4 separate regions of the Homo sapiens genome follow, and regions 2, 3 and 4 are each linked to region 1. Evidence: fine-mapped expression QTL. A gene starts in region 1. Each other region holds a variant in brackets. All regions are shown on one strand. Distances are between the middles of the regions. Region 1 holds the start of CHDH (choline dehydrogenase). Region 2 overlaps CACNA1D (calcium voltage-gated channel subunit alpha1 D). Region 3 overlaps CHDH (choline dehydrogenase). Region 4 overlaps CACNA1D (calcium voltage-gated channel subunit alpha1 D).

What was found. PIP is the estimated chance that this variant, and not a neighbour inherited with it, causes the effect.
Region 2: its variant is the best candidate, but not a certain one, in a credible set for the expression of CHDH in putamen (GTEx, PIP 0.83).
Region 3: its variant is the best candidate, but not a certain one, in a credible set for the expression of CHDH in nucleus accumbens (GTEx, PIP 0.78).
Region 4: its variant is the best candidate, but not a certain one, in a credible set for the expression of CHDH in whole blood (TOPMed, PIP 0.88).

Annotation. Positions count from the first base shown.
Region 1 is chr3:53,840,956-53,848,669 of GRCh38, forward strand. It overlaps CHDH (choline dehydrogenase), which reads right to left and starts at 5,464. Exons shown (of 9, transcript NM_018397.5): 1 at 5,128-5,464; 2 at 1-44. It overlaps IL17RB (interleukin 17 receptor B), which reads left to right and starts at 5,613. Exons shown (of 11, transcript NM_018725.4): 1 at 5,613-5,693; 2 at 7,709-7,714. The coding sequence starts at 5,634. RefSeq lists enhancers at 3,739-4,579, 4,580-5,420, 5,367-5,661 and a silencer at 5,012-5,661.
Region 2 is chr3:53,797,485-53,805,198 of GRCh38, forward strand. It overlaps CACNA1D (calcium voltage-gated channel subunit alpha1 D), which reads left to right. Exons shown (of 48, transcript NM_001128840.3): 41 at 2,765-2,881; 42 at 3,574-3,941; 43 at 4,663-4,689; 44 at 5,939-6,088; 45 at 7,499-7,662. Among named protein-coding and RNA genes, the nearest start is that of CHDH, 45 kb to the right of the region's middle. RefSeq lists an enhancer at 7,008-7,714. The variant G/C (reference allele first, on the strand shown) is at 4,274.
Region 3 is chr3:53,820,497-53,828,210 of GRCh38, forward strand. CHDH (choline dehydrogenase) reads right to left here. Exons shown (of 9, transcript NM_018397.5): 3 at 2,810-3,571; 4 at 1,995-2,146; 5 at 1,151-1,280; 6 at 1-112. The coding sequence starts at 3,512. Among named protein-coding and RNA genes, the nearest start is that of CHDH, 22 kb to the right of the region's middle. RefSeq lists an enhancer at 2,801-3,400. The variant T/G (reference allele first, on the strand shown) is at 3,394.
Region 4 is chr3:53,753,407-53,761,120 of GRCh38, forward strand. CACNA1D (calcium voltage-gated channel subunit alpha1 D) reads left to right here. Exons shown (of 48, transcript NM_001128840.3): 29 at 166-276. Among named protein-coding and RNA genes, the nearest start is that of CHDH, 89 kb to the right of the region's middle. RefSeq lists enhancers at 6-275, 82-581, 326-615, 706-805. The variant G/A (reference allele first, on the strand shown) is at 4,326.

The DNA of each region.
Region 1 (7,714 bases):
TGCACTCTGTGACCGGGGCTGGCCTACACACTCTTTGTGATTGTCTGAGAGAGATAAGTACAGAATCAAAAGTCAGAGGGTAGAAACTTTTACAGTTTTATCATTTGACACAGCAACCTATGTCTGTTGAGTCTAATAAGCAGATAGTGGGCTTATCTTTTTTATATATCTTCCATTTTATTATAACAATTTTCATCATATTTTAAAAATTGGCCCATGAAAGATTAAAATTTTAAAAACAGTCATCTAGTCTTTCACCATGGAGAGCTTGAGAAGCACTGTTATGGACCAGACATGGAACCCCTGCAGACCCCAAATCCACCAGCTTAGGAGGTTGGCCACAGATGCCAGGACAAATCTTCCCTTCCCACTGTCTGCTGCGCCGACTCCAGTACTTCCTATAAACACATCACAGGCGCTGCAAAGCCTGTTTGATTTTCTGCGCTCATTGGCACACTTCCACACCAGTACAAGCAGAGCCACTTCCAGCAGACACCTCTGTCACCCAGGCTGGAGTGCAGTGGCAGCTTCACAGCTCACTGCAAGGTCCAGGTTGTGTGCTGGGTGCCCCTGCTGGTCAAAGCACCTTGGCCAGCCAAGGTTAGCCAGCCAATTTTCACACACATGCCCACTGCTGTTTCCTCTTCAGACTTCTGGGTGGGTTTAACCGCAGAGGGTCCTAAGATTGCAAGGTGAGTGTTTGAAAAACTGACTGCTTCTTTGTATCAACTGGAAATCACTCTATCACTAAAGTACTGAAATTAATCAGGAGCTGGGACTAGTGTAAGACATCAACCTGCACCCATGGCCCTAGGTTTCTAGTGTGCTCCTGAAAATGGTATCGCTGTTCTAACTATGATACACACACACACACAAATCACAAATATAAAGTTATAAAATAAACTCACAGGCTGGGCGCAGTGGCTCACGCCTGTAATCCCAGCACTTTGGGAGGCCAAGGCAGGAGGATTGCTTGAGGCCAGAAGTTCAATATCAGCCTCAGTAACATAGCAAGACCCCATTTCTAAACAATAAAAAAAGAAAGAAAAAATTAGTCAGGCATGGTGGTGTGCACCTGTAGTCCCAGCTACTTCAGAGGGTTGCTTGAGCCCAGTGAGCGGATTGCACCACTGCACTCCAGCCTTGGCAACAGGACAACACTCTGTCTCAAAAAAAAAAAAGAAAAAAGAAAAAAAGAAAAGCGCAAAGCTAAAACCAAACCACATAGTGATTTTATCAAGTTCACAGCTGGCCTGAGTTTCATCCTCCCTCTTCTTACATAGCCTCACTCATCTTGTTTCTTCCTCCATAAAGTGTGGAATGTGATGCTACATCTACGACCCATATATTATTAATAACAAATAAATTCAAGTATCATGGATCAAAAAATATACCACCGATCCTGTTGCATGTGCCCAACATACGGCCCAACGTAGGGTGACAGGGTGATCCTCCCTGCAGCCCTATGAGGCTAACTTCATCACCCCTGTTTACAGATGGAGCTTTGAGAGAACGACAACAGTACCTGTCTCCTCTGCATCCGAGGCTTTCTTTGAGACCCCAGTGTGATAACAACAATGTAAAAATCAATGCAAGTACCCAGGAGACAAGGCACAGGGACCACAGCCATGAACAGAACACATGTATGTGACCTCAAGGGGTTTCTCCTAGGAACCAGGAGGAGTGGGATTAACGCTGAGTTAACACCTAGCCTGAGTCTGCGGGCTTTCCTGGGCCAGCCCCTCCTACTAGAGCAGAGAAAATGTGTTTTGTAGCCCTGCTGGGAACAGTGGGGTGCAAGCCCTCAGTGTGGCTTCAGGGTCTTTCCCTCAAAGCAGGCATTAAAATTGACCCTGCCAAGCTTAACCAGCTGGAGCAGAACATGGGGTTGAGGGAGCACCGAGGCCAGGAGTGCTCCCAACAGTTCCTCTCCCAGCTCCGGCTCACCACCAGGGGCCCTGGGAGACAGCCAGTATGTGCCAGAAACGGCTCACTCTTCACGAGACAATGAATCCACTGTTGACCAGCCAGGGCCTTGATTAATATTTGCAAAAGAACGAACTGGAAAATTCCACCTGTGTGGGTGGAGGCTGGACCCGCAGGACTTGTCAACAACCCTGATGGCCTTGTTCTCCCAGGGATGGATCAGGCAAAGAAGCAAAGGTCGGAATAACAATGACAGAATCTGGGGATTACCGTGACTCTTGGGTCCTAGGGAATTTCCCCCCCCACCTTTTTTTTTTTTTTTTGGTTCTGCCTCTCCTGCCCCTAAATTTACACAGCACTCTTAAATCCTTCAACTTGCTTTCCTATCTGCTGTTTTGCTGTTTCTTCTGCGTTTCCTAACAGCCCTGCTGGGGAGGCAGAACTGATGTCAGCCCCATGTTACAGATGGAGAAACAGGTTCCAAAAGACTAAGAGCCTCACTCAAGGCCAACAGATGGTGAATGAGCCGCAGAACCAGGTGGTCTGGAAGCCAGGCATCTCACCGCGCTGTGGCTGCACAGAGTCTGTGCAGACCCTAGGGTCTGGGTCAGGGCCATAGGTACTTGACCCAGTGATCTTCCAGGCTCTGGCAGAGGCCCTGACCTTTGCTCTGCTTGTGAAGAAAGAGGAGGAAGTTCAAACCAGCTCCCCTGGGTGGGCAGGCTCAGGCACTGGCCTTGGATGAAGGTAGGTGTTAATTTATTCATCCATTCAAGCATTTAATGAGCACCCCCTACAAAGCCCCCCCGGACAGGAAGGCACACTGGCTGGTAGCTCTTTCAGAAACCCAGACCTAGCAGAATTTATGACTGAAGGGAGAAGGTCAGAAAATGTCCAAAGGTCGCTTCTCTCATAGACTCAAATCACTTCATCGCCCCTATCACCACCCCATTTTACAGAAAAGGAAACTGCTCTGAGAAGAGCAGTGACTTGCCAGAGCCTCCAGTTCAAAAAGCCACAAAGTCATCAGGCTTAGGCAGCCAAATAAATTGTGTGCCTTCCGGCAGGCCACCTGGGACCTCTCATGCAGGGCCACTTGAGGCATGGCCTTCTGAGCTAGGGGGGAAAACCCCCGAGGGGACAGGCAGACACACCTGTTTGCCCACCTCAACCTCCAGTTGTGGCTACAGGGCCCTTCACACCCTCTCCTCCACTCCACAGCCCCAACTACGAAACTGAACCAGGTATCACCCCATCCCTAAGCCCCAGGGGGCCAGGGCAGTGTCATTCTGAACCCAGAACAGCAGGAAAGCCACTTGGCCTGGGTCTTGGGTCTCTGCCTGGCAGCCCCTGCCTGAGTACTCCTCCTTCTTACAGCTCAGCCACCTCCAGACCACCCTCACCTGACACTTCTTCCCCTGGGGGGAGAAAGAACCTCAGCCCTTCTCTTTTTACAAAACCCCCTCCCCTATCCTTTTGCCAAGGCTTCCTGTGACTGCCACCAACCAGCCTCAGTGCCCTTGGTCTCTCTGCCCCATCTGACCCCATGAGCTCCTCCCTCACTACTGGGCTTTCCTGCTGCAGCCCCTTAGACCTCCCCACCTCCTCAGGCAAGCTCTCCTCCCCAGGGCTCTATCCTCCTCTCCTCTCCACTGCCCCCTGAGAAAGTCTGACTCATGAACCCTGTCTCCAGGCCTAACCTCCGCACCCTGGTTGTCTCAAAGCCTGTGTGCCGAACAACACCAAGCTCACAGCAGGGCCTGCCCTGGCACACAACTGAAAAGCCAGCACAGCCCAGAGCCTGGCCCACAGCACAGAATCAGATACTCACGGAATGAACGCATGTTAGTGAATGGCTGCCTGCTCGCTCGTCTCAGAGGGACTAGCCCTCTATTTTGCCCTGCAGAGCCAACCAGGTGGCCTTTCTAAAACCAAAAATGGATGACCATTTAAGCCTGTACCATTGTTCCTCAGCACCATGGGACAAAGTTCACAATCTTGAGCTTGCAGACGAGGCTGTTTTCATCTGGGCTTCCGCAGCAAGGCGGGTACTTGTGTCCTTGAAAATAATTCTCACTGCACTCATCCTCACTCCAGGAGTACCCATCAGCCAGCACCCATGTGTGGTTCACCTTTGCACCCAGCAGGTATTTGCTGAACAGGAAGATGACTATTAGAGCTGAAAATGTTCTCAAGGGCCACAGGGCCCAAAGCAACTCAGAGAGGTGGAATGAGGGGCTCAGGGTGGCCCAGTCCCAGGCAGGGGTGCGGCCACAACCTCAACTGAGTTCCTTGGTCAGGAAACAGAGCAATTCTCTGAAAATGCTACCTGCAACTCCACACGTATGCATGCCAGAGCCCAAACCCCTGGCTGATCCCCAGTCCATGCAAGCCTTAATCAAGCTGGCAGGTGGGCCAGGCCTGGCACACAAGTAGGGCCTCAGCTAAAACAGCTGCTTGACTTAGTACAGCCTCTCACCAGCTGACAACACACCCCTAAGTTCCATACCCCTCTCTAGGCCTCCGTCTTCTCATCTGTAGAATGGAGCTAATTCTGCCTACAAGTTTAAATGGCCCTGAGTTGGTCACCACAACCCTGTCGTTTGCAAACCGAGGGGGCTGAAGCAGCAGTTCCAGCCTCTGTGACTCCACTGTTAGCCCAGCTGATTTTTGTGAACTTTCCCCCAAACCCACTGTGTCTCAAAGGATGGTCCCTGGGCCACCCACCCACGAATTACGGGGGCGTGGGTGGAGGCTCGTTAAATGCAGATCCCGGGCCTGACCCGGACCTGCCGTCTGGATCTCATTTTAGGCGGCGCTAGAGATCCCGGGCCAGGGAAACTTGAGAACCGCAGCTCCAAATCGCCAGTGCTGACGGCTTCCGCTTTGGGAGCCCCAGGTGTTGCTGTCCGAACTCACTTGGTGGAAACAGACATTTACCAGAAAGCCTGGGGTCGGGCAGCGGGCACTCCTACCGCTCTAACCCCGCGTAGCTGAAAGAATTCGCTCCCTCAAAGGAGTCAGTGAGCTTCGGCAGTCTGCGTTCCACCCGTTTCGCTTCGCGCGGCGGGGCGATTGTGTAAAGCGGGCCCGGGTCTCGGCGTCCAGCCCGGCCCCAAACCTCCGGCCCCCAGGCCTCTCCGGGCTAGCGGCCGGGCGGCGCTGCTGCGGGGTGGTCGGGGCGCCTCCGCGGCTACTCACCCGGGGCGACTCGGCCGAGAGCCCGACAGTCGGGACCGGAGCGGGAGGAGCGGGTGGCCGCGGCCCGGCCCCTGCCCCGCGGCACTTTAACCGGCGGCGCCGGCGCCCCGCGCGCTCTCTGCGTCCGGAATGGGGACGCAGCAGTTCCGACCCGGTCGGCCCCGGAGCCGCGAGGCTAGCTGGGCTCCAGCGGAGGCGCGCGAAGCCCGAGGGCGGGTGCAGCTGATGCACCTGGCTCACTGCATGCACGTGTGCGCGGGGGTAGGCGCGCGCCGCGGCGGCCCGTGCTCCGCCAGCGCTCGGACACGGCCCATCCCTCCGAGCCCCAGCAGGCGAGGGCGCTGCGACCTGCCCCAGCCTGGGAGGGGGCCAGCGGGCCCGCCCTCTGTTCGGGTGGCGGGAATGGGTCGGCGCTGCGAGAGGCGGAGCCGAGAAGGGGCGGCCCGGCGGCGCCGGGATAAAAGCGCAGCGTGCGGGTGGCCTGGATCCCGCGCAGTGGCCCGGCGATGTCGCTCGTGCTGCTAAGCCTGGCCGCGCTGTGCAGGAGCGCCGTACCCCGAGAGCCGGTAAGCCCCCGCCAGCACCTCTTCCCTCATCTCCCGGCCCTCGAGCCCAGATCCTGACGTCGTCTGATCCGCCAGTCCAGGCTGCCCCGAAGGCGTGCGCGGACTGCCGGCTCAAGGGGCATGCCTGCACCCTCAGGGCAGCCCCGGACATCGGCGTCAGGTTGCTTGAGTCAGGGGCGTGGGAATCAGACAGACCCGGTCTCAGATGCCACCCTGTACTGTTGGTTCTGTCATTTATGCTCACCAAGTTCCAAGTCCCGAACGGTAAAACGAAGGGCAGTACCGAACCCACCAGGGTCTCTTAAGGTATAACGACATGGCCTGCAATTAGCGGCGAAGGGCCTGGCACGTAGTTATTGTTACTTGGGGTCTGCTCACCTGTTGGGGCACAAGAACTGTTTCTCCATTAGTACCCCCTCCCTTTTTGGCCATATTGATTGCCATGTTCACTCGTGAAGGCAGTTGCCTTTCTTCCCCAGTACCCTGAATGATCGAGGGAATCTTCTGGGTCACTGAAGAGAAAATAGCTCATCCCCCAAATAACCTTTGAAATGATACCGCTGCCCTCTTAGAATAGCATATAGCATCAAGCTCCGTAGTCACCTGCTGGTGGACAAACCCCATTCACTGTTTCCTGATGTCTTCAGCTCCTATCCTTCCCCTCTGTGTCAGTTCAGAAGCCCTCTTGGCTCTTTGCACTAAAGGGAAGAATTCATCCCTTTTGCTGTAGTTGCTGCAAGGCCAACAATTTGAGCTTGGTAGCATTTAGGGTTGTTGCTTGGCCTCTCACCGGCCGTTTGATAAGAACTCAGCTCCTGGTATGATGGCTCATTTGTTAAAAAAAAAAAAAAAAAGTCAAGTCTGGCCGGGCTCGGTGGCTCACGCCTGTAATCCCAGCACTTTGGGAGGCTGAGGCGGCCGGATTGCCTGAGGTCAGGAGTTTGGGAACAGCCTGGCTAACATGGTGAAACCCCGTCTCTACTAAAAATACAAAAAGTAGCCGGGCATGGTGGCAGGCGCCTGTAATCCCAGCTACTCCGGAGGCTGAGGCAGGAGAATCACTTGAACCCGGGAGCCAGAGGTTGCAGTGAGCCGAGATCTGCGCCACTGTACTCCAGCCTGGGTGACAAAGTGAGACTCTGTCTCAGAAAAAGGAAAAAAAAATCTGATGATATCCCTTAGAGTTCATTTTTTAAAAGACAAATAAATGATTGACAATTTTGCCCAAACTCAAATCATTCAAACCATCAAAAGGAGATCTTAGAAGGTGTTTGGAAATGTGGATGCTCAGCAGCATATTCCAGAGCTGCTGGACGTATCACATTGAGTCTTGTCATTTGAGCTTGCTGCTGCCTAAAGCCCCAATATTTTAGGTTCAGTATTTTATTCCAGAACCAAAGCACAAATTATTTTTTCTTATGAAAAAACACGAGCAGCTAACTTCAAACGATTTAGTACCAGCCTTTCTTGAACACTAATAATTGCTTATGGTTTCGTGAATTGCTCAGTGAGTCCTTTTGTGTTAGAAGGGGAACATTTTAAAGAACCTGAGGAAAGTACCATGGACTGCATTCAGAGCTTTCTTTTGTTTATCTCCTTAGCATAGCTACTCCTTAACCTGGGGTAGCCCAGTAAATACTCTAGGCCGTCCTAAAAACCTAGAGTTAAACATTAGAGTGTGAAGGGGCCTCACATCGGTCCCAAGTCATCCCCTGCTTGCAGCAGGGAAGGATGACATCCAGAGACAGATGGAGACCCACCTGTGGTCTTCAAGTGAGGTTATGCACTGGCTTGAGGATCAGGTATACTGATGGCTAATCCATGGTCCGTCATAGCCTACAGTGGGACAGCTTAGTTCCCCCCTAAGCTGTGAAGCAGAACCAGTTCATCTTTTCTTTGAAAGTTTGTCACTTGTATATGCATTTAAGGGGAAAATGGTGTTCTGCCTAATTTGGCAAAGGAAAGCTTGTGGTTTGCCGGCTTCAACGTGACGCTTGGTTTTTTCTCTCCCACAGACCGTT
Region 2 (7,714 bases), 43 kb before region 1:
CTCCTCTAATGTCTCTTTAATAAATATGTTGTCATTATTTGTCTTTGGAAGTGGCAACTTGGGCCACCTTTCAACCTTCTCCATGATTTATGTTGCAAACAAATTCTCTGTCCCATGTCTGTTCATTGCACTATCTTGTCGACTAAATCCTAATCTTGTGTATCACTGAAGATGTGCTGGAGACAGTTTTTGTTTCTATTATGCAATTATGTTATATGTGTATTTCAGTGAAATGTCAACCCGTCAACAGAGGATGATGTTAAAAATTATCCAAATAAATAGTTTTCTATTTCTTTTAATCAGACCTAGTCCAATCAGTTGAATGACAGTAAATAGGATTATATGTTGTTTAAACTTGGGAGCATTTCTGGCCTTTACTGCCTTGTAATATGGATTAATGTACCAAATTTACTTGGGGGTGTTGACTTAAGTGCATTATAACCTATGTTTATTTTGTGGAAGCAGCAGCAGGTGTCTTAAACCTTGTCTTTTTGTTTGGGAGCCTTAGATATGTAACCGAGTTTTCTTCCCAGTTGATCCAAAATCAGAAGTGAACCCCTTGCTTAGCTCACCATCCCTTGATGATGTACCCTAGGAAGCTCTGAATGAATGAAATGCGGCTGTTTAGTACTGCCGGGTATGACCTTTCTTCACGTTCCTGCAGCTGTGCTGTGTAAGAGCTTTTACCAACATAGCATTACAGTTGCCTTCTTGATGTTTCCATGAGAATGGCAGGTGGGTCCACCTCAGAACCAAATGACTTCCCAGGCTCAGATGTGCTGAACTCGTGGATCCTGAGAGAGGGAAAGTGTGTGTATGTGTGCGTGTGTGTGTGTGTGTGTGCGTGTGTGTGCGTGTGTGTGTGCACGTGCACGCACGTGTATGCACAAGCATACCCACATGTGCATATGTGTACACACATGCATCCTGAGCCTGTGATCAGAGGGACAGGAGAGCAAGAAGCAGCCTCCCTGACCACCCCAAGAACTGTCTTGGTTTGACCCGGGACATGACTGTCTGTCCCCTATAAGATCTCAGCATTCCTAGTCAGGAAGCTTAAAGCTTTCATTCCCAGCTCTTCCTTCACCTTCAGAATTCACTAAATGGAAAGATCTGCTGCTCTATCTTCACAGAATGGTTCAAACCAAACCCAACCTGGCACCATTTTTAGCAGAATTGTCTCAAAGGCTTGGTGCTTTTGTGCACCAGGCTATTTTTATAAGGGCCTCTTGGGAAGTTCCTGTGTGACTTTACATTCTAAATTATCATCACCAGCACTGGCATTGGCAACTGCAGGAGACCAGTTTTGAGCATCCCCAGACCAGTGGGACCCAGCCCTGATGGATCTGGCCAGACTGCAGCCACCATCCCCTCCTCCTCCCTGAACCACTTCTGGGCATCTGTTCTACCCCATGCTTGTCTCAGGGATGGTCATCATGCCTATCTGTCCTTGCCACAGCTGCCCACATGCTAAGAGGTGTTGTGGAGGAAGGACAGGGAAGCGGTCTCCTCTCCGAGGACCCACCACTTAGTCCAGTTTTCCTTTGCAAACCACCCTGAGGTTGAAGCATTTGCTGCACATCCATTGTCTTAGCTGTTCTCCAGGCCTTTAGGGCTACAGAGCTGTGGACAGACTGCCAGTGAGTGAGGAGGGGCTGCCTGGATACAGGACCGTAGACCCAGGGCAGAGAGGACATGCCTTCTTCAGATGCAGGACTTTCTGTGGAAAAGAATAAAGTTGCCATACAGTCCCTATTAGTCTTTAACTCAGCATACTGTTTTCCTTCAAACTGGTGGTCAAAACATCATCATTCTCTCAGAGCTGGAGCAGTACCTTCCTCCATGCACCATGCATAAGCATCTTGGAATGCTTCCCTAATGAAGTCATGAACAATGGAAGGGCTTATCCTGGGCCCTGTCTCAACATAGCAGGGACCACAGTGAGGAAGGCAGCTGTGAGGGCGCCAGGGGAGATGCAGAGTATCTGTGACGGGCCCAGAGGGATCTACCAGGGGTGTCTTCTGGTGGGTCTTGCACTGCCTGCAAAGGCTGATAAGCCACTTTCAGTTTGTTGTGATCTTCAAAAAGCGGACCCCCTGTTGGTGAGTTCTCAGCCTGCACACAGGCTACAGGCCAGGGTATCCTGATGACCACGGTGGCCGGGTCGGTGTGCGTGTCAGTCTGCTCCGTCGTGGTCCGAGTGTGCTGGTGGTTGCAGTGTGTTGTGTCACTCACTCGTTCCATGGCTTTTTAGCAGAACCAGTGGCCTGAGGACTGCTTGGTCTGCTTGTGCCTCTGGCACCTACACCTAGGCTTCCTCATCCTAGATGCAGCAAGGGAGTCCACATCAGCCTCCCTTTAGATCGGCCAGGCTGTGCTCCTTGCCCTGCTCTGGGCTTGGAGAGATAGGGCTCTTGTAGGCGAGCCTACTGAAGACTGTCACTGAGACAGGGGCATAAGCTCTTGGCCTGGCAGATCCTAGCACTAGTAACCAGGCAGTGTTCCTTGGAAGTGGGGGTTTTGCAAAGGAGGTTACGGGGTTGCAGGCCTCAGGCATCCTACCTAGGACCTTCTTGACCCTCTGGATGCCTGACCATACCAACAACCCTTAGACTGCCTTCAGTGACATCAGTCAGTGCCCTGGATTGGCTTTTGGGGAAGCCTTCCTCCCCACCGCTGAATCAGGAAGGAGCAAAGCCAGGACCCAGGCTGGCCCCAGGGCCCATGTGTGGTCTAACCTGTTCTGCCATTTTCATTGATCTAGGCGGGATTAAGGACACTGCATGACATTGGGCCAGAAATCCGGCGTGCTATATCGTGTGATTTGCAAGATGACGAGCCTGAGGAAACAAAACGAGAAGAAGAAGATGATGTGTTCAAAGTAATTATTCCACGCCTAGCTACACACTGGCCATCTGGAAATAGCAGGGCAGGACTCCAGTTTGGGCAGTTAATCATCCACAGAAGAGTCTGGAGAATGCAGCCCATCCCCAGGGCCTAGAGGGGCTTTCAGACCACACCCTCCCCCTCTTACAGACCCTCCCCAGGCATCAGCACCTCTTCTAGGGCCAGGCCAGCTCTTTCCCTGAGCTTACCCAGCTTCCCCTCACTGCCTGCTTCTGAGGAGCTCGGCCACAGCCGCTGGCCCTGTGGATGAGCATCCTGAGTCCTTCCGGCAGCTGCCTTTGCTACCCTCCTCCTTCCCGGGCCAGCTCTTTGATCTGCCAGCTGGCTGTCAGTCCCCCAGCCCAGAGAGCATGCCCAACCTTGGGGCCACCAGCCAGCCCAGCTGGGTATAAGTCACCCCAACTTGGAGCAACTGGAAGAGCACACTCGAGTGACAGCCGACAGCTTGCTCCCCAGCTCAGGAAATCGGTAACCTTCCTCATCTCGGGGGGACCAACTGCCACACAGTCACATTCACCCTGATCATTGAGACACTCAGATTGTTTTACAGGGATCCTACGGAGCTTGCCTAGAATTTGTTTTTCATGTAGAAAAAGTTACCTAACATAGCTAGTCTGCATCAAATACTTGTTAAATTACCTGGTGTTGTCTCCCATTATTTTGCAGAGAAATGGTGCCCTGCTTGGAAACCATGTCAATCATGTTAATAGTGATAGGAGAGATTCCCTTCAGCAGACCAATACCACCCACCGTCCCCTGCATGTCCAAAGGCCTTCAATTCCACCTGCAAGTGATACTGAGAAACCGCTGTTTCCTCCAGCAGGAAATTCGGTGTGTCATAACCATCATAACCATAATTCCATAGGAAAGCAAGTTCCCACCTCAACAAATGCCAATCTCAATAATGCCAATATGTCCAAAGCTGCCCATGGAAAGCGGCCCAGCATTGGGAACCTTGAGCATGTGTCTGAAAATGGGCATCATTCTTCCCACAAGCATGACCGGGAGCCTCAGAGAAGGTCCAGTGTGAAAAGGTAACCTTGACAATGTGTTTGGACTTGCTCATGTGGTGTCTGCCCGTGTTGCGTCTAGTCCCAAGGAGCAAGGCGGGTCTGTGCTCTGTGCTCTGGGGCATGGAGGAGGTTCCCCGTAGGCATTTGTGTCAGGATCTGTGAGTGCCCCCCAGGTCACTGCTGCCTCTGACACTCTCCACGTGATGGACCTAAAGGATAAGGGCCACGTGCCATCCTACATCCTGTGTGGGGTGCCGAGGGACCTTAAAACAGCAGCAGCCACAAAATCCACCTCTCAATTGTGCTCACATACTGTGCGACAGGGGTTGGTGAATTGTTTCTCTAAAGGGTCA[G/C]TGAGTCAATATTTTAGGCTTTGAGAACCATACAGTCTTGCACCTTCTCAGCTCTGCCGTTGCAGTGTGAAATATGTAAGTGAATGGGTGTGTGGCTGTGCCCATTAAAATTTCCCTATGGTCACTGAAATTTGAACTTCATATATTTGCATATGATGAGATATTTTTTGTCTTCAGATTCTTTTTTATGTTTTTCAATCCTTTATAACAATAAAACCCGTTCATAGCCCATGGGTCATACAAGGCCAGGTGGCAGCCCCTATGTGGATGGCGAATCATAATTTGCTAACCCCTACTCTAGGAGGTAGCCTGATGTTTGCATTGTAAATTTGGTTGGAAATTAACTTTTATCTTCTCCCTCCTTCCCATGTTATGCCTTTCCTGGATAGAACCCGCTATTATGAAACTTACATTAGGTATGTGCTCATTACCTGTTTTTGTGTTAAATACTGTGATGGTATGTTACCAGCTGGCCTCTCTGAGTGCTGAAGAATGAGAAACACTTCTTTGAGCCAGCCTATTAAAGGTTATCATAATTCATGGCTGTGGACTCAGAGGTCAGAGGTTGTTGCTTCTAAGCAAAGGCACCTTCAGATCCATATCTCTGTCGACTCTGTTGCCATCCAAGGACTGGTGTCCACACACAAGGTGCACCCCATGGGCTGGCTCCTGCAGGCCTCGCGATGGCACTAGGAGCATCCATTGTGCATTTACAGGGGCCTCAGCCTGTGTGGCTGGCAGCTCCGGCTGCTCTCTGGGGTCAAGCTTCTTGTGGGTGCTTTGCAGCATGACCCAAACCTCCTGAAGGTCAGGAATGGGATCTTGTCATTTTCCCTGTAGCCCTCAAGATATGTGTAGTATATTCCACTCCACATGTATTGACCTGAGTTGAATTGTGGGCGGAATGCCCATTTTGTTGGGGGCCAAGGGAGGATGGGTCTTCCTGTGTCATGTTATGAAGTGAAGTCGGGAGCCATGTGGGCCCAAGTTGGGTGCAAGAAAGTGGAGAAGTCAGAGGAAGTGCCATCCTTCCTTTGGAGAGAGGATTGACATCACCACGTCCTTCTCTGAGGACTGAGGCCAGGATGAGCCGGGTTTCAGGGAGACTTACCACATTCCTGGGGCAGGGCAGCCTTTGGAAACATGGTGGACATGTTCTGTGACAGTTTCCCCTGTGGCACTGTATCCAGAACTCACTCGACCTTCCTGATTTGATACAGCAGGAGGTCAGTGGCCAGGAAGCTCCTTTGTTCCAGGTTCTGAAGTCACACTGGGCTGGAGCTGGGGGACTAGAAGGAGAGGGAGGGATCAGAGCAGATGCCCTGGGAACCCAGGGTCTTTTTCCCTAGGTCCATTTTTTTGTTCTGTTCTCCAAATTGCACCTATTCCTTTGGCTCCAAGGCCTCTGGACACAATGGTTTGACACCAACATTGTGCAGGGCACTGAGAGAGACCCTATCCTGGCCCGCAGGCACACCACACACACAGACACACACACGGTGCTGTTGCCAGAAGCCGGAACAGTCCAGTGCTGCCTGAGGCAGGTGCGCGCTGGGAGAAGCCAGGAGCACCCGGGCAGGGTTGCCGGCCACAGGCAGAGGTGCAGCTGCAGCAGGAATTATCTGCCGCCTGCCCAGGTTCTCAGATCCTCTCTCCCAACTGCAGGTCCGACTCAGGAGATGAACAGCTCCCAACTATTTGCCGGGAAGACCCAGAGATACATGGCTATTTCAGGGACCCCCACTGCTTGGGGGAGCAGGAGTATTTCAGTAGTGAGGAATGCTACGAGGATGACAGCTCGCCCACCTGGAGCAGGTGAGCTGCTCTGGCTCCTGTGGAGAGCGGGAGGCCGCCCTGCCCTGGTGCTCGGCCCACTCCGGAAGCCAGGGCCACCGGCAGCTGCACTTGGGCTTCCCCTAAAAAGCAAAATGGGAGCAGAAACTCCAGGCCAGAGGGAGAGTGGAGCTGGAGAAAGAGAGCCGCAGAGAGGCAGGGTGAGGGCTATTCTTTCAGACCTGTTGCCTTATTTCCACTAGGGGCCTCTGAGGCCTTTTAGTGAAGGCTTGGGAAATGGGAGATGGGCCTGCTTCGTGGCTGGGTTAATGCCTTTCCACCACCCGTCTTTGGAGAGATCAGTTTTTGCTGAATTAACACTTGGAGCTCTGGCGGCCCCAGGGCTCTGTGTGGACGGCGGCTTGGCCAGCCTGGAGCTGGGCCAGGTCCTCATGCACAGCACCTGCCTCCTGCCACTTCAAGGGGTCTCTCGGGGAGATGAAGAAATGAGGGGTCACTCAGCAGAGGGGTCCATCTTGCTTCTGTCCTACAGAAAGAATGTTTGTTAGTACAATGGGCACTCTGCTTTAGGAGGCGTAGCAGGCGGCACAGGCGGATGAAAATCGCCCTCCACCCTCTTCTCTGAACCGCACCTCACTGTGACCAGGGGCCCAGTGAAGTGGAAGTGGAATGGCAGTGAGGTGGCTTCTGGCATCTGAGCCACAGCCTGACCCTCACCCTCTGCTCCCGCAGCCCTTCCCCGTGCCTCTCTCAAATGCCTGACTTCTGAAACCACTGACTCTGAGCCAGATGAACTCGTGTTCCCTTCTCTAGGGCTTTTGCTCACACTGTGGCCCCTGCTTGGATGCCCTCACTCCGTCTGCTGGCCTCATCCCCCCTGTCGAGGGCCTGCTCTAGGGCCTTGCTTTTTATTTCCATGACTGGAATTGAAATCCCTCCCCCAACCCCCAGAAAAGAAAACCTCACGAACCGCATGAGTTCCTCTCTTCCAGCACTGGCCCTTTCCAGCTCGCATTTGATTTCTGTGTGCTCATGGCATTTTCTAAGCCCATTGAGGGTGGGGCTCATGCTTCATGCATCTTGGTGTCCTTGGTGCCCAGCACCTGGCAGAGGGAAGGCACTCAGGAGAGGGGCTCTCACGGAGGAAATGAGTGGGTGAGAGCCTGGCTCACAGGACATCTGCGATCCACATTTGCCCTGGAGCTGAGGGATCAAAACTGCCAGCACATCCCTCAGCACAGGCCTCCAGTCCTGTAATGGCCCTTGGTCTCCATCTGGAATCTTCCATGAAACTGAGGCCAGCCTTGTTCTCAGCCAATCCTACTGTGTCCAAGGGAGGAGGCGGGGAGAGGAGTATGGATGTCAGTCTGGCAGGGTTGAGTGACAGAGCTTGTTACCTAGAACCTTACTGCCCTCCTCTCTGACCTCCAGGCAAAACTATGGCTACTACAGCAGATACCCAGGCAGAAACATCGACTCTGAGAGGCCCCGAGGCTACCATCATCCCCAAGGATTCTTGGAGGACGATGACTCGCCCGTTTGCTATGATTCACGGAGATCTCCAAGGAGACGCCTACTACCTCCCACCCCAGCATGTGAGGCCAGATTTTTTGTTTTGGGTGGAACCTCCCGGGGAACAGTGTACCT
Region 3 (7,714 bases), 20 kb before region 1:
AGACCAATGCAGACCTTCCGCAGGGGCTTCTGTGCTGAATGGAGGGTGATAGGGCGGGTGCATGCCTGCTGAATGTAGATCTCCAGGTGGTCTTGCAGGTTCTGGCCAACCCCTGATACGGGAAGGAGTGGTTTAGAAAATGGCTACCAAGGGGGCTCAGCTGCTTCTCAATATCCCCCCGGTTTTGAAAAATTCTTTCCTATTCCCTTATCTTCTGGACCAGCTCCTGCTCAGTTCCCTGGTCTCAGCTTAAAGGCTGCCTCCCAGAGACACTATGTGTGCACTCCTGGCCAAGTCTGGCCTGCCTCGGATGCTGCCAAGGCCACCTGTCCTTGTCACTCACTCCTACGGCAGCCTCTGGGTGCCCCTTGTCAGCCCTGCTCAGCAGCCCCCTCTGTGAGGGCAGGGCCTACGCCTTCAGCAGGCACTGCTTGGTGAGCGGTTGCTGGATGGTGATGGCCAGAGGGGCAGACAGCAGCCCCACCCTCACGCCAGCGTGGGGAAGGAGGAAGCAGCCCTGTCGTGCTACACCGTCCTTGCATGAATTCATCCAAGCCTACTGGGACACTGGGCAGGTCAACATCATGAAGCAGCACTTCCCCGGGCCCCTCATGATGAAGCCTAAAGGCACAAAGGCCTAGCCCTCCCGGAGTGGGGTTATCAAGGAGGGCAAGAGACAGAGCCCGACCCTCAAGAGCATCAGAGACAGTTTATAAAACAAAGTTTACATCTTAACATGAAGAGCAGGCTCTGGAGCACGGAGCTGACCTCATTCATGCTCAGGGCAGCCAGCGAGTCCTGTGGATGGAAGGACGAGGCCTGGACCCCTCTCGCCATAGAGCTGCCCTGGTGACACGCCCATGCCCGACCCAGTGGGGCTTCAGGGCAGATACTCCCTGCTGCAGGGTGCCCTTCTCCAAATGAAATAGGGCAGCCGGAGGAGGGAGAAGGAAAACAATGCAAGACTCGGGGCCCAGGGATGACAGTGTCCAGTGAGGCCTGGGAAACCTTCGGGCTCTCGGGGACAATGTGATAGTTCCAAGGATCACTGACTGCCACCACCTCCCCACTTCATGCTAATAAGATACATACACTAAGCCTTTTGTTGAGCAGAGACAGCCTCTGGGGAGCAGTAAAGAAGGGGACTCACCAGGTAGGTGGCACACCACAGGGATGCCCAGTTTCTTGAGGTCATCAGCATTCCCGATGCCAGAGAGCATGAGCAGCTGTGGAGAGTTGATGGCACCTCCACTCAGAATCACCTCCTTGCTGGCATAAGCCTGGAAGAGGTCCAGCCAGGTCACTCCCTGAAAAGCCAGCTGTTCTCCTGACTCACAGACCAGCGCCCTACTCTAGCCAGCACCATGAGAACACAGCCTTGGGATGTAGAATCCTGTGGCACACCCGGGACAGGCCCCAGAGCTAAGGAGAGGAAACTCACTGAGTCACTACTTGAAAGCAACCAGCAGGTGCAACTACAGCTGGACAGTAGTGACAGCCTTAGAAACAGGAGGGGAGGGCTTACACGAGATAAATGAAAGCAGGCATTCAAGTGGGTGGTTTAGAGAGAGCAAGCGGTGAACCAGATCTACACATGAAGCTGCAAAACAATCAGACCCCCTGCCAACAACACAGAAATAGAGTACAATCACATTTATGGGTTTTAAAACCTCTAGTGTAAACCTATAGCTTTAAACCTATAGCTTTCTGTGACATCGGTGCCTTGAAATGGTGTGGAAGGTACTGGGGGAGAGCTCTGAATTAGGCATGGCACACAGGGGCACTGACACCATAGGCCCTTTCTCGGTGGCAGGACTAGGGGCTTCTTCACCTCCACCAGCCCACTGCCATCAGCTACTCGCCCCTCCCCCCGCCATCACAGGGATGAGCACGTGGGTCTGGGGGTGAGGGCGTGACTCCTGCCCACTCTGAGCTGGACCACCAGGGTCACTGCCCACCCCCTTCTTCCAGGACCCCAGCTGCAGTCCACTCACCCTGTGGCTCTGGCCATTCTTGACATACTCCACGCCCACTGCACGGGTGCCCTCAAATAGCACCCTGCTCACAAGCGTCTCGGCCTCGGCCTTGAGGTTGGTGCGGCTCAGTGCTGGGTGCAGGTAGGCACAGGCCGCGCTCCACCGTTTGCCTGCAGGATGGAGTGAGGTGGTCAGGCATGGCTCCGCCCTCCCCTGGCACCTGGGCAGGAGGAAGGAGCTGGAGAAAGAAAGAGTGGATATGCCCAGCTCTGACTGCAAGTCCCGCCTTCAAAGTAAAGCTGAGACGGAAAGACCCTGCAAGACCCTGCCCTACTGAGTCCACATCTGCCTGGGGTCCCCTGGAGGCAGGTGGAAAAGTACCCTTCACCCTCAAACAGGAGGACACAGAGACCAGGAGCACAGCCAGAGGGGTGAGAGCCTTCAAGAGGCAGGCAGAAGCCCCGGGTCAGCCCTGGCTCGCCTCTGTCCTGCTGTGAGCAAGGCCCTTCACCACTCTGTGCCTCAGTTTCCCCATGTGCAAGTCCCTAGAGGAGTTAGGCTCTCTGTCCAGAGAGCTGATTCTCTGTTATCCACACCAACAGGGGCCAGAGGTGCAGAGAACGCCCAGGGTCACCATCCTGGGTCACTCTCAGGGCTCCGGGTTGTACTCTTGGAGGGGTATACTAAGCCAGATCTCTTCCCGGTCGTGCCAGCCTCAGTCTGCCCATGCCTCCTGACCATGCTGGAGCCAGGAGCCTGGAGCCACGGGCCAAGATGGGTGGGGGCTGGGGTAGGGGGTAGTGCTTTTTTAAAAAGAGAAGGGAGACCACTACCTTCATGGATGGTCATGTCCATCCAGCCGAAGCCCTCCTGCTGGAAGCCATTCATGTCCTCGGTGAGCGGGTAGCCGGCCTGCTGCGTGGCCTCCAGGAATGCGCAGTGCAGCGGGTGGTTGGTCTTGCCCCGGGACACCCGCAGCGGGCCATCGGCGCCCCGGTACCGGCTGGCGCCCAGCTCGTGGCCCTGCGCCTTGCGGAAGTAGGGCAGGCAGTGCGCGTAGTCCCAGCCGCGGGCGCCCTGGCGCTGCCAGCGCTCGTAGTCCTCGGCGTGCCCACGGACGTAGACCATGGCATTGAGGGATGAGGAGCCACCCCAGACGCGGCCGCGTGGCCAGTACAGCACGCGGCCGTCCAGGCCCCGCTGCACCTCTGTGTGGTAGCACCAGTTGTACCTGTCGTCGCACAGGTTGGCCACCAGGGCCGCGGGCATGTGGATCTTCCACGAGAGCCGCTTGCTCCCCGCGAGCACGTCCTTGGGCCCGGCCTCCAGCAGCAGCACGCGCTCGGCGGGGTCCTCCGTGAGCCTCCCAGCCAGCACGCAGCCCGCCGAGCCCGCGCCCACCACCACATAGCTGTAC[T/G]CGTCCCGGCTCTCAGAGCCTGCGCTGGCCAGGGCCCGGGCACCCAGGGATTGCTGCTGCCCCAGGGCTCCCCGTGCCAGGGCTCCAGGCCGGCCCAGGCCTCGTAGGAGACACCACATGCTTCTATCTAGTCCAAGTCCTCTGATCCACGGAGGGGAATGAGATGACTCACTTCTCCCTAAAACAGGAAGAGGGGCTTTAAAAATCTTAACTCCGCATATCCAGGGTATGCTCACCAACGGCCTGCCGGGACAGGGTGCAGCAGGCCCAGCCTGATGTGGCTGCTCAAAGGAACTAGGAGGAGGAAGTGAGGGACACACAGGAATTTCAGAACTGTTTTGTATGTGCCAGGATGGACAGGCACAGGCCAGGGGATGGGGCAGCAGAAAGGCCCCTCCCCCAACTGAGGGGTAAAATGCTTCCCTGTGCCCTGTGTATGAACCTGGAGACTGGGCTGGAGTCTGCCTGCTGGAAGGCAGGGGGGCAAAGGGCTTTCCAAGGGAGAAAGAAAACAGAGTATTTGTACTCATCCCTTCAAGACAGTGGGCTCAGCCCCTACCATGTGCTAGGCACTGTTCCCTGCCCCACCCAGTTCCTGCAGCAATACACAGAAAGACATCTGCTCTCAAAACGGATGGTTTAGGGCCTGGGAAAAGGACAAGACTTAAATAACTGAAGGAAGATCAGCATGAGAGGCACGAGACTGTAGAGCTCAAAGCCTTTGACCCGAGGGGCCATGGGGAGCACTAGAGGGATTTGAAGCAGGTTCAAGATCAGAGCTACACTCTTCAAAGATCACTCTGTAGAATGCTAGCGTTTTAACAGAAAAATGGCAATAGCTTTGAAAGGGCCCTTTCCTAACAATGTTCAAATCAATCCCAGCATAGTGCACAGAGGTAGAAAAGAAACAGGATATGTCATGAAAACCTCCATTGAAAAGAACACCTGAGAACACCCCACCCGTGAGGCTCAGACCAACAAGGCCTGCCCAAGACAGGCTGAAACAAAAGGAAACCCTGATAAATCTCACCACCCCTTCCACAAGCCCTGCACCAAGTAACAGCAGCCTACCACTGGAGTGCAGAGGCTCTTTCTCCTCCTCCCGTCCACCGTTGCACAGGCATAGGAGACAGAGGTGGCGGGGCCTCCTGAATGGTATGTCTGAGGCTGCTGGAACACTGAGAAGAACTCTTCAGAGCTCCAGGCCCCACACCACTCCCCACCAGACTGACAACACTCCACACTAACAACCCAACAGAATGAAAGACAGGTCCTTTGCTAGGTATACTGTTTACCTCAGTCTCCACTATCCCATTACACACAAGGTCTAGCATTCAATAAAAAATTAGGATACATACCAAAAAGCAAGGCAAATAATGACTCCTTATCAAGAGATAAAGTAGTCAACAGAAACAGACCAAGGAGTAATGCACCCAGATGTTAGAACCCATCAAACAGGGACTTTAACCAAGGTGAGCATTATAAAAGATATAGTTGAAAAGGTGGACAGATAGGAAACTTCAGCCAAACAATGAAAACTATAGAAAAAAACATAAATGCAAGAAAAAAATACAATGTTAGAGAAGAACAATTTTTAATTGGATATAGCACAGAAAAGAATCTGGAAATATAAAGAGGGGAAGAGAGAAAAAACAACCAACAACTCTGGGACAATATCAAACTAAAGTACAGATAACTGGAGTCTGAGGGGGAAATAGTGGGGAAGGAGGGCAAGGCGGAAAGAAGAGACAGAGAACAAGGGAGGAGAAATATTTGAAGAGATAATTGCTGAGACTTTCCCAAACGTAGTGCAAGACAAAACACTATGGATTCAAGAAGCTTAGAGCATCCCAAGCAGGATTAGTACAAAGAAAAACACATCTAAGTACATCATAGTTAAGCTGCTGAAACTTCAAAATAAAGAGAAAATCATCACTGTAGCCAGACAAAAAACATATGCAGAGGAATAAATATAACAATGACAGTAAAATTCTCAGAAAACATGCAATCCAGAAGATAATGGAGTGACAACTTTAAATATTGAAAGAAAAAAAAACCTCTAGTCCTAGTTTACTGAAATTGAAAAATTATACCCAGGGAATACATCTTTAAAAATAAATTAGATGATAATTTAGATGAAATGGACTAATTCCTTGAAAGATACAAGCTGCCAAAACTCACACAAGCAGAAAGACACTCCAGATAAGCCTATATCTATTAAAGAAATTGAATCAATAATTGATAACCTTCCAAAACAGCACCAAGCTTGACTAAGCTCACTGGTGATTTCTATCAACCATTTAAGGAAGAAATTATACCAGTACTCTACAGTCTCTTCTAGAAGATAGAAACAGACGATTACTTCCTGACTCATTCTGTGAGGCTAACATCACCCTAATAACAAAACCAGACAAAGACATTACAATAAAAAAAAAAAACCACTACAGACCAATATCTTTCATGAACATAGATAAAAACACTCAACAAAAATACTAGAAAATTGAATCAAAGTATGTATAGAAAGAATTATATACCACAACCAAGTGGGCTTTATCTCAAGTATGCAAGACTGGTTCAACATTCAAAAATAATCAACAGGCTGAAAAAGAAAACTCACATGATCATATTAACAGATGCAGAAAAAGCATTTGACAAAATTTAACATCCATTAAATGATAGAAACTCTCAGTAAACCAAGAGTAGAAGGAAACTTCCCCAACTTGGTAAAGAATATCTACAAAAACCCTACAACTAACATCATACCTGACGGTAAAAAATTCAAAGCTTTCTCACTAACCAGGAACGAAGCAAGGATGTCCCTTTGAACCACTCCTTTTTAGTATTGTACTGGAAGTCCTATCTAATGCAGTAAGACAAGAAAAGGAAAAGGTACAGATTGGGAAGGAAGAAATGAAACTTCGTTTGCTAATGACATGATTGTCCATATAGAAAATCTAAAAGAATCAACAAAAATTCCTGGAACTAATAAGCAATTATAGCAAGGTTTCAGGATATAAGGTTAATATATAAAAGCCAATTGCTTGCCTATATACCAGCAACAAACAAGTGGAATTTGAAATTAAAAACACAATATCATTTAAATTAGCACCCCAGGCTGGGTGCAGTGGCCCATATAACCCCAACACTTTGGGAGGCTAAGGTCAGAGGATCATTTGAGGCCAGGAGTTTGAGACCAGCCTGGGCAACATAGAAATACCCCATCTGATATGGTTTGGATTTGTGCCTCCACCCAAATCTCTTGTCGAATTGTAATCACCAATGTTGGAAGAGGTGACTGGATTATAGGGGCAGGCTTCCCTCTTGCTGTTCTCATGATAGTGAATTATGAGATCTGGTTGTTTATAAGCGTGTGGCACCTCCCCTCCTCTCTCTCTTCCTACTGCTCCAGCCATGTAAGACATGCCTGCTTCCCCTTCACCTTCTGCCATGATTGTAAGTTTCCTGAGGCCTCCCAAGCCATGTTTCCTGTAAAGCCTGTGGAACCATGAGCCAATTAAACCTCTTTTCTTATAAATTACCTAGTCTCAGGTAGTTCTTTATAGCAATGAGAGAAAAGACTAAATATACCATCTCTAAAAAAAAATAACTAGTAAAAAATAAAGTAACTGGGTGTGGTGGTGCATACCTGTAGTCCTAGCTTGAGGCTGCAGAGAGGTATGATTGAGCCACTGCACTCCAGCCTGGACTACTGCACCTCAGCCTAAGTGACAGCAAGACCCTGCCCCTAAATAAATAAATAAGCATCACAAAGAAATACTTAGGTATAAATCTAACAAAATATGTGCAAGATCTATATGAGGAAAACTATGAAACCCTGATGAAATTTAAAAACTAAATAAATGGAGAGATATTTCATGTTCGCAAATTGGAAGGCTCAATATTGTCAAGATGTCAGTTCTTCTCAACTTCATCTACAAATTCAATGCAGTCCCAGTCAAAACCACAGCAAGTTATTTTGTAGATATTAACAGACTGGTTCAAAGTATATATGGAGAGGCAAAAGACACAGAATGGCCAACAAAATACTGAAAGTGAAGCGCAAAATTGGAGGACTGACACTAACCAACTTCAAGATTTACTATAAAGCTACAGTAATCAAAACAGTGTCATATTGGTGAATAGATCAATGGAACAGAACAGAGAGCCCAGAAATAGACCCATATAAATGTAGCCAACTGATCTTTGACAAGTCATCAAAGGCAGCACAATAGAGCAAGAAAGTCTTTTCAACAAAGGGAGCTGGAATAACTAGACACACACACACACACACACACACACACACACACACAGAGTAAATATA
Region 4 (7,714 bases), 88 kb before region 1:
GTGGGAGTTCACCACATGACCTTGCAATGCCGGTGGAATTGCCCAGCGAGGGTGCTGGGCTGTGGAGGATGCCCACAGGGGCACAGAGGGCTGGGAGCCTCCATGTGCAAGCATGTGAGATCGTGGCTGAGGCTCTGAGAACGGTCCCTCTGTCTTCATCCATAGCACTACGAGCAGTCCAAGATGTTCAATGATGCCATGGACATTCTGAACATGGTCTTCACCGGGGTGTTCACCGTCGAGATGGTTTTGAAAGTCATCGCATTTAAGCCTAAGGTGAGTTGCAGAACCCACTTTTCAAAGGTTGTTGCTGAGTCACCCTAGAGAAGTACCCGCTTCCTGTTAGTCTTGTGTTACTGAATTATGCTAAAGTGTTCTGGCCGCTAACTGGGTTACCACCTGAGAACATTAAAATCTGATTAGAGCATGTGTGTATATATGGGAAAATGAATCTGCAAGAACAAAACCTCATGAAAACAATTCTGAGAAACAGAAGCAGGGAGATTAGAATTGGGAATTTGTAAACTGCAGATTATTTTGAAAGCCAGTTTTCTGTTTCTAGAATAGTACATATCATGCTGTGTCAGGGAAACCTGCCTCATTACTTGAGCACTAGAGAAAATGTTTGAACATAACCCATCAGAAAGAATTTGACCCTGATTATACTTTCAGATATCTAGTCTAAAGACTTTGTTTTGTTTGTTCTTGGTCTGCAGCATCCTTTTTACCCTTTAAGGGAAGTGCTGATACCAGCTGCAGACCTCTCACAGCCATACCATCTTTTGTTTGCTTAATTTAGAAAAATTTCACTTGACTTTAACACAAAATGAGACATGAAATGTGTTCAACTGTGCTCGACGACTCAGCGTGTTGTACCCCTTTGGGAGGGAGTGAATTCAGTTCCCCACTTGTCAGTGGCTGCCAGATGAGGGGCAGTGTAGTTCAGTGTCAAATTGCATAGTTGTGGAACTGGACTGGATTCAAATCTCTACTCTGGCACTTACAGCTGAAACAAGTTCCTTTCTTCCCTGCGCCTCGACTTCCTCACCCATAAAATGAGGACGCTAATAGTGCTGTTTCATGGGGTTGTCATGAGGAGTAAAGAGTTCCCATATACGCACTGCTTAACAGAGTGCCTGGCATGTAGCGCCACGCTGCGGACTGTCGGCCACTGCTGTTCCTACCCGCACCACCACCCTCATCATCATCAAGCAAGGATGTTCCCTCATTCTAAAAGCCTAGACAGAAGAGCCACACCAAGCTGAAATGTGGGATATTTGGCCCTCATTTTCTTTCCCAGTACAGCCAAAAACTCTCAGAGTTAGAGATGACAGAGTTCAGTGACCCAGTTAGTTATCTCTGTGTAAGGTATCTGACGACACTGATTTAATTAAGTTAGGCATGGATTATGAAATGGATGGTTTCACATACTCCATAGTTACATGAAATTCTAATTCCAAACTGTTCCTTTCTTTAATTTGAATTAATCTCTATGCAATCTTTATCAGATCTTTGTGGACCAAAAAGAAAGGACATTTGTAAGTGATTAATTGGGGTGATTGCAGTGGGGTCAAATTTGGCACCTAATGCATGGCCAGATGTTATTATCTACTGTGACTTGTCCATATCTACATACATAAACATTTCCTCCTTTTCCAAATTCATCTTAATTTCCTTTGAGATTTTGGTTTGCTTCCCTCTCACCTTTACTTCTTTGAACAATATTTGTCTGGACTGATGGAAAAGGTTGCAAAGTAAGAACATCGAAGGTACTTGAGAAATGCAACATGGAACCTCTCTGTGGAACATTTCCCAGATACCTGGGCCATGTCTTCCCTTGCCAGATGATTAAGCTCTGAAGTTTTTGAAAGCTTGCTCTAGGCTGAAGAGAAAGCACACTCACCCATGGTGTGTATGTGTGTGTGTCAGTGTGTGTGTGTGCACATGCGTGTGTGTTCATGTGTGTGCTTGCTCCCTTCAGCCGGCCAGTGCATTGACAGCCCAGTAGTGCACTGCCCAGTAGGCTGACAGTTGCCCAGAAGATCTCCAAACCTGGGAGGAGAGTTCAGTAGCGCGTGAACAGATAGGCGATACCAAAGGGAAGTGAGTAGCTAAGCTATAATCAGTACTGATAGATCGGAGTTTTTAAATGGTTGATTTTTGCTGGAAATTGTACTGCTTGTAGTTTCACTCAGCAAGATATCTTCATAGCATTAGACAACCTCACGTTACAATTGGGAGAACTTTTAAGACAGTAGCAGCAGCATCTCCACACTTGAAGAGCACTGTCACTGCGTTCCCCCCGGCCAGGGGAGGTTGAGTTTATATCGTGTGCCGGGATGAGTGGGAGAGTATCGGTTCACCAAGAAGCAATGCCCTCCTTAAAATTTTTCCTGCCCTTTTTTTCTTGCTCTTCTCTTTGGTGTTCACAAGCCCAGCCCGAGCAAGTGGTCTTTCACAAAGAAGCCAGGGAGGCCTCCTCCCTCCTGGTCGGTGGGGTAGTCGGGCTGAAGAACAAGGTTGTCAAGGCTGCAGAAGGAGGAATATTCTGAGGAGATGGCCACATGGGACCTCAGCCTCCTCTCAGGAGAGCCTTTGTCTCATGGGAGGAGCTTTGTAAAAGGGTCCCTCATGGCAGAGTTCTCCACTGAGTCAGGTACACCTTCTAGCAGGACTCGTCAGTATCTCTGTTAGGGGACACAGGCTGGCAGAGTTTCAGTTGCTTCATAAAATAAGTATAGAAAGTGAGGTAAGACAAAATTCTTACTGGTAGGTGAGAAGGCATTTCAAGAGGGAACGGTTAAAGAAAGTTGAGAAATCTGACCTTAAGGACTTATTTTATGTAAGGGAGCTTGATGGAGAAACTGGGCCTCCTAAGAGAGTATATTTAGAGGGAAATGGCCCAAGGTCATGGGAGATGAGATGACCCAGCCTCTGCCAACCCAGAGGGAGGTGGGAAGTAGACAGAGGGAGAAAACTCCGAGCTGGAAGCCTCCATGATGGAAGAGGCCATCTCACCTCAGGGGAGGAGGCATTTTGGAGCACTGGTCAGGCAAGAGTGGAAGGTAGTTAGGAGCCGAAGCGCAAAAGCATCCGGGAAAAGCAAGCAGGTGATTTAGCCGATTGTGGGTTCCCGAAGGGAAAGTTCACCAGCTGGGTGTTGACCTGGTGCAGCCTAGGTCCTGCTTTCAACTTGGGGTCAACTAGACCTCTGTAGGGTTTTCAAAAGCAGGCCCTAGTTTAGGTGACACAAGCCCCATTCTCCAAGCCTTTCCCTCCAGCTGCTAGAATTCTCCAACAAGTTCTCTTGCTCCAAGGAGGAAGATTGATTAAGAAGGGCCTTTTTCAAAGTGCTGGCTGCAGCAGGTATAGAGAGCACTTCTGTGGAGTAAGAAGAGCCTGGTCTGTCTGGGATTCTCTTTGTGGGATGTTACCCATCTGGCGTTTTGTCCAGGCTGCATTCTAGGCCATGTTGTTTGCTGCGGTTACTGGCCTTCTCCAGTGAGCCATACTTCGTTCCCATCTTAGTCCTTTAAAGTGTTTTGATCTTGATTCTACCCTGAAAATATACTAATTTATACTCCTAGCTACTTGGGCTGGAAAAAGTAAGGAGAAATTAGGTTTGGGGAAAGAAGAAAGTGTTTTGGTGCTGTCCTCATGCTGCTGTGCAGAGCTGATGCAGAATGGGCACTGAGTCCTCATCTGCCTTCAAGGGCTCTGTTCGCTGCTCCAGGGTCCCTTGCAAGAGTAGAGCTTCTTCATGATCTTCCTAGAGTACCTTTTCCACCTGCTGGAGAGAAAATTTGACACTGTTTTTTTTTCAGTTCTTCATGACCCCATCTGTTCTAGATTTACTTTTAATGGCAAATAATACTTGAAACCAAGTATTACTGTCCTTAGAACTTTACATTGGGCTTCTTGTTGGGCTCCATCCTGTCCTTTTGACATTGAGGTTTCCCAGAGCCCTCTCCTGGTCCCCTTCTTGCCTGGTAAGATGCATACATGCCAGAGCGTCAGTGGCCGCCTCTGTGGCATGCAGACCTGCACTGCCCTTCTCTCTCCTGAGCTTCTATGCCTCCCTGCCTTCAAAATGATCTCCCTGCCTCTGGCCTCAGCCCTTCTACCTACTCCCTTTGTAAGCCCAAAGCTGACCAGACCACTCTTGCAGTGATATTTTGGCACTGGCCACCTATTGCTTGAGAAAGCATATACAATTTTCTTAGTCGAATATTCAAAGTCCTCCATGAAGCACTGGCCCCTGTATATTTCTGCCTCATTTCCTGCCATTCCCTCCCTGCTATTTCTTCGTCCCCACCCCATCCCCA[G/A]GTGTTGGCATGCTAGACCTTTCCCTGCCCATGCGCCTCTGTCTAGATACCCTGCTTCCTCTTTGTTATCCTTGAAGGCCTGTGGGAAATGTTATCTTCTCTGAGACAGCATCCTCACCCCAGCCAGAGCCAGCCCTGTCCTCTGCTCATGCATCCGTTGGGGGCCTACTATGCACCATCGTTACCAACACTACTCCATGTCTGCCTCTCTGTTTGTTGGTGAGCAGCTGCTTGAGGTCTCAGGCTGAGTCTTCTGCTTCTGGCTCTGTGGTACCTCACATGATGCCTGGTGGTAGCTTCCTGGTGGTAGCTCAGTAAGATTGGTGGAATGAAGAAAGGAATAAAGGGATGATCCTGGAAGTGCAGCCTCTGGGCATGAGACGATACCTGCTTTTCTGTCGCAGGGTATCTGGGTAGAGCAGAGTGGAGCACATCTTCCCTTAATTCCCCGCTTACCTTTGGAAAGGCTTTTGCTAGTTAGAAAGCTGTCAGGCATAGTTTCTACCAAAAGTTGGCACTTTGGGTTATCACTTGGGTCAAATGCTACCCAAATAATCCCTGCCAGCATGGGTAAGAGATCTGGCTGCCATGATCAATGACAAAAGGCACATTATTTATATAGGCTTCTACCGATCTGCAGATGGGAGTGAATCCAGGCAGCAAAAGGAATCTGAACTTGGGTCACTTTTCTTGTTTCCCATTTGCAACCGTTCCACAAACATTGCCCCCTTACCATGTGCAACGCCTGTGCCATATCCTGGCAAGAGGGCCAGGAATAAGAGATGTGCCTTCCAGGAGCCCACTGTCCAGCAGGAGACAAACATTGATGGATGGTGACAATAGGGTTCTTAGACATAGTGGTGCTTCCTGACCCTGAGGCCCACATTAGTCTGGTTTATGATTTTAAATTTCCAGAGTCAGAAATGTTTCTGCGCAATACATATTGCATGTGGCTGACTTGTTTGGTCTTTTCAGACAGGTAGAGCTGGACACAAAAATAATATAGATTTGACTGCTGGTTCCACTTGAGAGGTTCTGGCCTCAGAATTCAGTTGTAGGAGAACACATCATCATAGGCCAAGAGGAGAGAGCAGGGAGAGGGGCCCTCTGTTAGGAGCCGTGTCATTTCTTGTATCTTATCTTCTGGTTACAAAGGCAATATGGTGCCTTTGGTGGGAGAAGGGTGGGGGAACTGAGTCATGCCACTTGACGGTGATTTTATTAAACAAGAGGCTACTAAATAGGGAAACAGTATGTGGGAAGAATGGGAGGGCTGACATTTTCTCCCTCCCCTGGACTCCTGTCAGAGCCACCTGGTCAGAGCCTGTGATTTCAGCCACCTGCCTTCTGCTTCCTAGATTAAGGGTGTCAACCTTCAGTCCATCAATCATTCCAATTTGGGCACAGTTTTATGAGTGTGAGGGGTTTCTGGAGAGAGAGTCAATGAAATTGCCAAAAAATTCCAAGACCCCAAGGAAATATTAAGCCCCTATTGTGTTGATTTAAACGGATTTTATCCATCACAGTGCACCAGCATTGAGAATATCTTATAGGCTGATGGAAATGGCCTGAAGGGGAGAACACTGATAATTCTGGAGAGAGGGAGAGAGGAGCTGTTCAGGAATAAAATCTCAAAGTCAGAGGCTGGCCTCCAGCACCCATGTGGTGGGTTTGGCCTTTGGGAAATGACATAAATAATGGAGAGAAGCGGCGCACACGGTACAAATGCAGGCGGGGCTGGGGCACGCACCACAGCAGGTGCGAAGGGCGAACGCTGGGTCTCCTCCGCCTTGTCAGTACTCTGGAGGTCTAGTTGCTACTTGTGACCAAGTTTTTGATCAAGGTGTAAATTCCTTCCTAGAGGGGAGGGGAAGGATCACTGTGCTTTCTTTAGCTTTTGAGTTACTCTTAACTCCATGAAGAAAAGGGCAGGCTCTGCCCCTCCAAGTGTGGTCTGTGGCACTGCCACCAGTCAGAGAACTGCTTGTTATCCATTCGCAACAAGAGCTGTCAGCTCTAACACTAAGCACATTGATTCAGCTGGCTTTCTTGTTAGGAGACTTCTTGGACGAAGGAAACTGCTGTGTTCCCTTACAACCTGAGGCTAGCTCTTGATCTCACCTCTGACTGCTAGTCTAGACCTCAAAGGCAGCCCATCTCTGCTCAGTTTTGCCAGCCAAGAATCATGAATTCATGCAAAGGAAAGCTAGAAAGCATAAGCTGTGCTGTTTTTAAAATAGCCCTTCCCATTAGACTTTTATACATAGATCATCAGATTTGGGGCTCACAAATTCCTTTTGTCTGCTGATAGATGGGCCAGGGAGGGTAGCAGTCAGTGAGGGTAAAATGGGAGAGAGGCACTGTGATCATAGGGCGGGGAGAGAGGTGGAGAGTTGGTTAGAAACCACGGCGGTTGGGTGGGGGAATCTTACATTATTAAGATTAAATTTAAGAAGCAAACCCGAAGTCAGTGTCGTAGCTCCCCCATAAATGCACCTAGACTGATGGATGGTGACTAGAATAAACATCCCTACTCCAGCTGTTAGGACAGTCAGTACGTCCACATCTTCTATACTGTCGCAAAAGGCTGTGGTTCTGCAGTGGCTTCTTCTGGGTCTGTGTTTGATCACAAGTTTCTGGGACCTGACACCTCAAAGTACTTTTTGTTCTGGTTTTCTTAATGCAGCACTAAATGTACCCCGTTGTAAACAGGCTGGGCCCCATTTTATATAATATGTACCTGAATTTTCATTTCCAAAAAGCGTCCAGACTCTTTGGAAAAACACAGTTGGTTTATAGACAGAGCTGTTGATCTTGACAGTCAGTCCGTTGCCTCTTTGGCTGTCTGTGCAGTATCTCCCCACCACCCTCTCCAACCGGGAGCTTCCCAGGGGTGTCGAGAGACCACAGGCACTCATTTAGCACCTGCTGTGCTGATGCTGGAAGAAGATGTAAAATGTCCGGCACATACATATAGATTTTAAGTTACAATTGTGGGGATGTTGTACCCTCAAAATTGTTGCAAGATAGCAGGACCTGAACAAACAACCAGACAAAGCTGGATGACAGGCAGGGTGCAAGTTGGTGGACAAAGGGGACATTGCCCATGTCAAGCACTGACTGGGTTCAAGGCTCTGGCTAGATAATGGGGTTAGGGAAGTTGGGGGACTGAATATGCAGCACAGTCATCATCCTTCAGGGCTTTTGATTGGTAGAGCTGCAGACAAAGACCCCACATTCAGCCATCAGTACGTAAGAGATTCAGCGTCAGCCTGAGGGAGTGCAGACAGCCGGGACTGCGAAGGTTCCATCAGGGAACATTTATCTGACCTTGAAGAAGGGTGAAGTTGAACAGATGGAGTTGGGGTTAGGCAATTAGGATTGCAGAG